Linked DNA regions of Homo sapiens. The protein of the gene in region 2 interacts with the protein of the main gene of each other region in a pairwise test. Each region holds a gene or a part of one and is shown on either strand. Other genes may lie near its edges. The genes, in order: FGL1 and LAG3.

Region 1 (3,931 bases), on a different chromosome or scaffold from region 2:
CAGTGAGCCAAAATTGCACCACTGCACTCCTGCCTGGGCGACAGAGCAAGACTCCGCCTCAAAAAAAAAAAAAAAAGTAAAGTGTGAAAGAAGACATTTACAATAGATATAATGCTTCATATTGCTTGTTACTGAAATAGGAAAAGCCTGAAATAACTAGCACCATCACTGTACATGGGTGCATAATGTAAGTTATAGAAACACTTAAGAAAAGTCCATTCTGACCTGCATACTGCCTCTTGCTTCCAAGATCAATGACAGTATTCTCATCTCCTTTATCAAGGAACTGGACTTCATTCTCCTGCAAAAGCTGCTTGATCTTGACCTGTTGCTGTTTGACCCGGGTCTCAAGCAGGCGCACCTGGGCTCTGAGCCGCATCTGCTCCTGGGCACAGTCCTCGAGCGCCTGCAAAACAGGTGAGATGAGATGAGTATGCACCTCATTTTCATGGAAAACAAGTGCTTTTTAAACATTTGGATAAATCAGTGATTCCATTTTGTCTCCAGTTCCCATTTCAGAATATTATTCCAAAGAGAAAGTGGCTTGAAAAGTTCTAATACTGCCTACTATTTGAAGAATTGGAAATTATGGCTTATGCGAAAACTCCTGGACTCAAAAGATCAAATAATATAAAATAATTGGAATCGCTATGCTAGGAGCTTTATAGTTGTCTCCTTTGATCCTCATAACAATTCCATGCGGTAGGAAAGGGCTCAGTCTTGATGCCCAGTGGGTAAGCGGAGGTGGGATTCAAATTCAGTTCAAGGACTGTGCTCTCAATCTCTATATGACATTGCTTATGTGTTTTCTAAACAGTAATGTGGTTTATAGAAGTTAATTGTACTGTTGGCATGTAAATCTCCATAATAAATGAGGTTTTTGAATGGCTGTCTGGTATAAATACTTTTAAATATGTATATTTAATGTATATTATATATTATATATATTATATATGCATATAAATAATATATAATATATATAATATATAATATATTAAACAATATATAATATATAGTATATAATATATTAAACAATATATAATATATCATATATAATATATTAAATAATATATAATATATATCATATATAATATATTAAATAATATATAATATATCTCATATATAATATATTAAATAATATATAATATATCTCATATATAATATATTAAATAATATATAATATATATCATATATAATATATTAAATATATAATATATATCATATGTAATATATTAAATATATAATATATATCATATGTAATATATTAAATATATAATATATATCATATGTAATATATTAAATATATAATATATATCATATGTAATATATTAAATAATATATATCATATATAATATATTAAATAATATATAATATATATCATATATAATATATTAAATAATATATAATATATATCATATATAATATATTAAATAATATATAATATATATCATATATAATATATTAAATAATATATAATATATATCATATATAATATATTAAATAATATATCATATATATCATATATAATATATTAAATAACATATAATAATATATAATATATTAAATAATATATAATATAATAATAATATATAATATATAAAATAATATACAATATAATAATAATATATAATATATATTACAAAATATATAATATGAATATATATGAATATAAATGAATAGATATTATATAATATATAAATATAAATAATATATAATATATTAAATATATTTATATATAATATAATGTAATATAATTGTATTTATTATATTATAGTCTACTTTATATAATATATTATATTTATACATAATATACGTATATATAAAATTACATAATGGATTTATATAGTATATATTATATCAAATACATATGCATATATAATACATTTATATTTATATAGTCTATAATATATATATATTTTTTATATATATATATATGTAGTACATCTCCCCTCCCTCCCATCTCTAGGTCCAAGTCATGGAACCTCTCCCAGCCATTTTTCTAGGATGGTTTCTCCCTTTTCCTTCCCCTTCCCCTTTCCCTTCCTCTTCCCTTACGTTTCCTTTCTCAGAACCTCTCCCAGATATCTTTTCTAGGATGATTTCTTTCTCCTCTTTTCTTTTTCTTTTCTTTTGTTCTTTTCCTCTCTTTCTCCTTCCCTCCTTCCCTCCCTTCCTTCCTTCCTTTCTTTTCTTTCCTTTCTTCCCATCCCTAGGTCCAAGTCACAGAACCTCTCCCAGCCATTTTTCTAAAATGATTTCTTTCTCCTCTTCTTTTTCTTTTCTTTTGTTCTTTTCCTTTCTTTCTCCTTCCCTCCCTCCCTCCCTTCCTTCTTTTCTTTTCTTTCTTTCCTTTCTTCCCATCCCTAGGTCCAAGTCACAGAACCTCTCCCAGCCATTTTTCTAGGATGATTCCTTCTCTCTCTCTCTCTCTTTCTTTCAACAGAGTCTTGCTCTGTTGCCCAGGCTGGAGTGCAGTGGTGCGATCTCGGCTCCCTGCAACCTCTGCCTCTCTGGTTCAAGCGATTCTTGTGCTTCATCCTGGCAAGTAGCTGGGACTATACAGGTTGTGTGCCATAACACCCAGCTAATTTTTGTATTTTTAGTAGAGATGGGGTTTTGCCATGTTGCCCAGTCTGGTCTCAAACTTCTGGCTTCAAGCGATCCACCCACCTCGGCCCCTCAAAGTGCTGGGATTACAGGCGTGAGCCACTGCACCAGGCCTCTCTAGGATTACTTCTTATTTGTTCTTGTTACTCTATCCCTAACACTCAGATTTATCCCTTCTGAGATAGTTATTTGCTTAGCACCTTGAGTCACATAGGCTAAAAAATGAACAGCAAGAACATTTTATGGTGTCTGGGTCCTGAGTTGTTTTACAACAGTGGGGGATCGGTTGTGATATTGTTAAACATAGTGCACTATGCAATTTTAAAATAATTGAAGACATCACAGGTCAAGTATGCCCAATCTTTATGAGATTGCATACGCATATTTAGTAAGCTTATTTAAAACCTAGGAGTTTTCTTTCTCCAAGAACTTTGAATGAATGTTTTGTCTTTTTTATTCACAAATGAAGGACAACACAAGTTCGATGTAATTACTTTCAAATAATCTGGTTAGTTTTACACTTTTCAATATTGAAAAGCTCAAGGTTAATTTTAATTACTATGGACAGTTTCAAATTTCTAATATTCCAACCAAATAACTCCAGTGAATTTTTAAAAATTACTTATTTATTATGAATACTTTTTATTTAAAAAAATGTAAAGCACTTTTTTTTTTTTTGAGATGGAGTCTCACTCTGTCGCCCAGGCTGGAGTGAAGTGGCATGATCTCAGTTCACTGCAATCTCCGCCTCCTGGGTTCAAGGGATTCTCCTGCCTCAGCCTCACGAGTAGCTAGGACTACAGATGCGTGCCATCACGCCCGGCTAATTTTTTGTATTTTTTTTAGTAAAGATGGGGTTTCACCATATTGGCCAGGCTGGTTGCGAACTCCTGACCTTGTGATCCACCCATCTCGGCCTCCCCTGCAAAAATGTAAAGCGCTTTAAAGTGCTGCTTTACTATGTGTCCAGTATTTCTACCAGCCTCTTTGCTTTTCCCACATAGTTAAGTTTTTTCAATGACAAGTCACTATAGGTTTAATGCAAAATGAAAGAAAATTCAGATAAAAGCAGGCATTATAAATATGACAATAGTTTTCCCAAGAAGCTTACCGAAATTTCCCTGCCCATTGTCAGAGCGGTGGTAACAAGGATGAAACTGAACACCTTTGCCATGTTCCCCCTTGAAAAAACTGCAAGAACAAAAAGAATTTTATAAATGTATCAACCTTGAATTTTTCATGAGACCAGAGTTCAGACTTCAGTAGCTCCAGGAAGTCGGATGCAGCCGCAGGCCATCCCTAATCTTAGAGTCGCCGAGGAAAT
Region 2 (3,767 bases):
ACTGGGTGGCAGTGTGTTCTCATGCCTGGGACCAGAAAAGCCTCCAAGGGCTGAGGAACGTGGGGGGTGGGGCAGAGGTAGGAGCCCCAGCCGGCTGCCCAGAGAGGTTTCCAGACCGGATCTCCTGGAAGACTTGACAAGGCAGTCCTCTGCGCGCCGCGCGTGTGTGTGTGTGTGTGTGTGTGTGCGTGTGCGCGCGCGCGTGTGTGTGCATGTGTGTGTGCACGTGCGCGCGAGCATATGTGCGCATCTGCTGCAGCCGGAGGGCCAAGGACAAGTGCTGAAGTGCAGCTGAGTGTGGGGTGGGGTGGACCCAAAGGACAAAAATATCAAGGAAACCAGGGCAGCCAGCGCACTGTGGGTGGAAGGTGGGTGGAAGGACGGAGGAGAGAGCTGCGGAGGCAAGGGGCAAGGGCTTTTTCGGGGGAGCTTCAGAGAAATGATTACCCAGGAGAGAGAAAGAGAGAGTGAGCGCAAGAGAGAGAGAGACCAAGAAAGAAACACGAAGCAGCCAGAAACAGAAAAGGGGAAGGTGAGGGAGGCTGGCTGGGGAAAGTAGGTTAGGAGGCTAGGGTGGGAGAAGGGAGCCCTCAGAGGCTGGGGAGAGACGGGAACCTTCACTTGGACAAGAAAGAGCCAGACTCAGGCTTGCTGCTGACAGGGAGTTTATTTGGACTGGGCTGCTGAGATCTGCTGGCTGCCTCAGCTCCAGGTCAGAGCTGCTCCGGCTCGGGCTCGGGCTCGGGCTCCGGTTCCGGCTCCGGCTCCGGCTCCGGTTCTTGCTCCAGCTCCTCTATCTTGCTCTGAGCCTGCGGAGGGTGAATCCCTTGCTCTAAGGCAGAAAATCGTCTTGGTCGCCACTGTGAGAAGAGATGGAGAGAGAGACGGAGGGCGGAAGGAGGAGAAGGATGAAGGGAAGCGGATGAGGAGGGACACTGAGTCCCTCTATTTTTTCTCAGCGCCCCTGCCCTCCCCATCTGGTCCTGGCTTTCTCCCAACCCCCCTTCCAGCCTACCCAGGCACAAGCCATCCCTGGAGTGAGAGGCTTATGAAGAAGGGGGGCTCTGAGGGCAAGTTCAGGGTCCCATTTGGTCACCTTCCTGAGGAAGGGGTGCCATCAGCACTCTGAGGATGGAAGAGCGGGAGCTGCTGGGGGGCGGGGTTGCCATGTCCCTGGCTCACCTGTCTTCTCCAAAGGTGAAAGCCAAAGGCTCCAGTCACCAAAAGGAGCAGAGAAAGGACACCAAGGATGAGAAACAGCAGGAGGTGGCCTGCTGGGAGGGCACCTGGGGCTCTCCCAGAGCGTTGGGCACCTATGGAGAAAGTACAGGATGAGGCATAGGGTCAGGACTAGAAAGGACACTTTGTCATTCTCTCAGACTTTACAGATGCAATGAGATCCAGAGAGTTTAAGGGACTTGTCCCAGGGTCATTCAGCTGATCAGTGGCGGAAACGGGTCAACCCTAGGCAAAAGCCAGAGATCAGGTCCCTGACTGGAAAGAAAAGCGCTGGGATGGGGGTGGCAGGGGCTGTTCTGGAAGGAGGATAAAGATTATTGCTGTGGCGTTTGGGTCCTGGCATTCTGGGGCCTCGGACCTGGGCTAGACAGCTCTGTGAAGTACACTGCTGCTCCAAGAAGCCTCTCCCCCTGGTACAGCTGGCATTGCCAAGGCTGGGAAAGGAGCTGGGCCTCCTGTGCCTCCAGCCAAGGTCCTGAGAAACTCCTCTGGGATGGGGTGTCCAGAGAGCTCCACACAAAGCGTTCTTGTCCAGATACTGGAGTCACCTCACAAAGCAGCTTCCCCAGGGATCCAGGTGACCCAAAGGATTTGGGAGTCACTGAAAAGAGTAGAAGGAAGAGATCTTTTGGGATTCTGCCCCCCTTACGTGATATCACAGGTTGAACCCCAAGTCTCAATCACCCTGCACTCACTTGGGTTCTGGCCAGGGGAGGTTGGGGAAGGACATCATGGGTCATGGCCACGTTCATCTTTTTCTTTCTATTTATTTTTTTATTAAATTGTATACAGATGCGTTTTCACCATGTTGCCCAGGCTAGTCTGGAATTCCTGGACTCAAGTGCTCCTCTCGTCTCAGCCTTTCAAAGTGCTGGGATTACAGGTGTGAGCCATCATGCCCTGCCGGCCACATTTATCTTATTCAGACAATGCTCTAGTCAGCTCCCTCCCCTGCTCAAAACATTTCCAGGCTCCCTACTGCCTTCACACTCAAACTGGCCCTGGCAGACCACAGAATAAATACTATTACAGATTCTTTTACATTACTTTCTACTCAAATGCTCAGAACCCTCAAAATCAGTCAGATGAGCTGACCCCCATCTACTTCACAATTTTGGAACTTCCATGATGCGGCTCACATCAGTGTCCCCTGCCTTGTGGTGCCCCCTGAATGAACATCATCCCCCTTTCTGAAGGTATAGAGAACAGGGAACTGACCCATTCATCTAGAGACAGAGCATTCTCCAAGTTGTAAAGTGAGAGATGGGTGGGTGGGAGGAGACAAAGGGTGAAGGGCATCTGAGTAGTGTCCTGGAGAGTGATTTGGTGATGCAGACACCTGAGTTTAGACCCAGAGTCTGGCACTTCCCAGCTGTTTTGAGAAAGTCTTCGGGGTAACAGTATCTCTCTCATTGAGCCGTCTACATAAAACAGTTGACCTTCAAGAGGGCATTGGACAGAAAGAACTGGTGGACTTTGATGACTGATGGGATGTAGAGAGGAGGAGGCCAGGTTTCGAGGTGGATGGATACCAGTGGATTACTGACAGGCTGAGTCAGCAAGGGGATTGGTGGGAGAAAAAGCTGGGGTTCAGGGTAAGGCGGCTGAGAGGTGGTATAACATCTAGTTAGAGGTATCCAGAAAGCAAGTGAAAACTCAGGATTGGCCTTCAGGAGATGTATTATCCATTAGCATGTTCACGTATTCATTCAATCTCTATACATTATTAAGCACCTGCCGTGGGGTGCTACTACTGAGTGGCCGCAGGTGCGTGCTGCAGACATGGCTAATCTGTCATGGCCGATAGTTATCAACCAGTCAACACATACTCTCTGAGTATTCTTTTTTCTGTGTTTGTTTTATACTGTCTTGGAAAACCCTTGCTCAGTAAATATTTGCTGACCAAGGGACGGATTTATTCACTCCTCCCAAATCCAGGCCACTTCCTGCAACTCTAACCCAAGCCCTGGCTGCAAAGTAGACAAGGATTCTAGAAATATATTCTACCTCTTTCGAACCATTCAGAATTTTTGTCACCTTTCCTTCTAACTTCCCAGACCCTCCCGCCAATTGAGAGCAGGGGAGTCCCATAGAGAACGGTGGAACTTTTATCTTGTGACTCAAGAGGAGATTTTCAGTTTCGTTTCTTTATTATGGGGGTGAGAAAAGTGGGGGCCGAGATGGGCAGGCTCTGGAACTTGTGCCCAGTGGCCTGGCATCACAGGGTGGGTTTGCCTAGTCTTTGCCCTGCCAGCCCTTCCTCCCTGTCCTTTCTACCCTGGGAGGGCAGCTACTCCTTTCCCACCTGAGGCTGACCTGTGATGATTGCCAATGTGACAGTGGCATTGAGCTGCTGTTCCTGCAGATGGATATGGCAGGTGTAGGTCCCAGCCTGGGCCTGGCTCACATCCTCTAGTCGAAGGGTAAAGTCGCCATTGTCTCCAGTCACCAGGAGGTCAGGGCCTCCCCCAGGAGGAGTCCACTTGGCAGTGAGGAAAGACCGGGTCCCCACACCAGCAGGCAGGCGG

What was found.
Region 1: the proteins of LAG3 (region 2) and FGL1 interact in binary tests that used the Homo sapiens proteins (3 or more experiments, as listed by UniProt).

Annotation. Positions count from the first base shown.
Region 1 is NC_000008.11:17,881,774-17,885,704, forward strand, and holds part of FGL1 (fibrinogen-like protein 1 precursor), read right to left. Parts: intron 3,799-3,931; 5' UTR 3,782-3,798; coding exon 3,719-3,781; intron 407-3,718; coding exon 226-406; intron 1-225. UniProt on the Homo sapiens protein: Immune suppressive molecule that inhibits antigen-specific T-cell activation by acting as a major ligand of LAG3. Responsible for LAG3 T-cell inhibitory function. Binds LAG3 independently from MHC class II (MHC-II).
Region 2 is NC_000012.12:6,775,337-6,779,103, reverse strand, and holds the end of LAG3 (lymphocyte activation gene 3 protein isoform 1 precursor), read right to left. Parts: coding exon 3,556-3,767; intron 1,841-3,555; coding exon 1,598-1,840; intron 1,314-1,597; coding exon 1,183-1,313; coding exon of another isoform or gene 1,097-1,182; intron 861-1,096; coding exon 714-860; 3' UTR 649-713; downstream 1-648. UniProt on the Homo sapiens protein: Lymphocyte activation gene 3 protein: Inhibitory receptor on antigen activated T-cells. Delivers inhibitory signals upon binding to ligands, such as FGL1. FGL1 constitutes a major ligand of LAG3 and is responsible for LAG3 T-cell inhibitory function.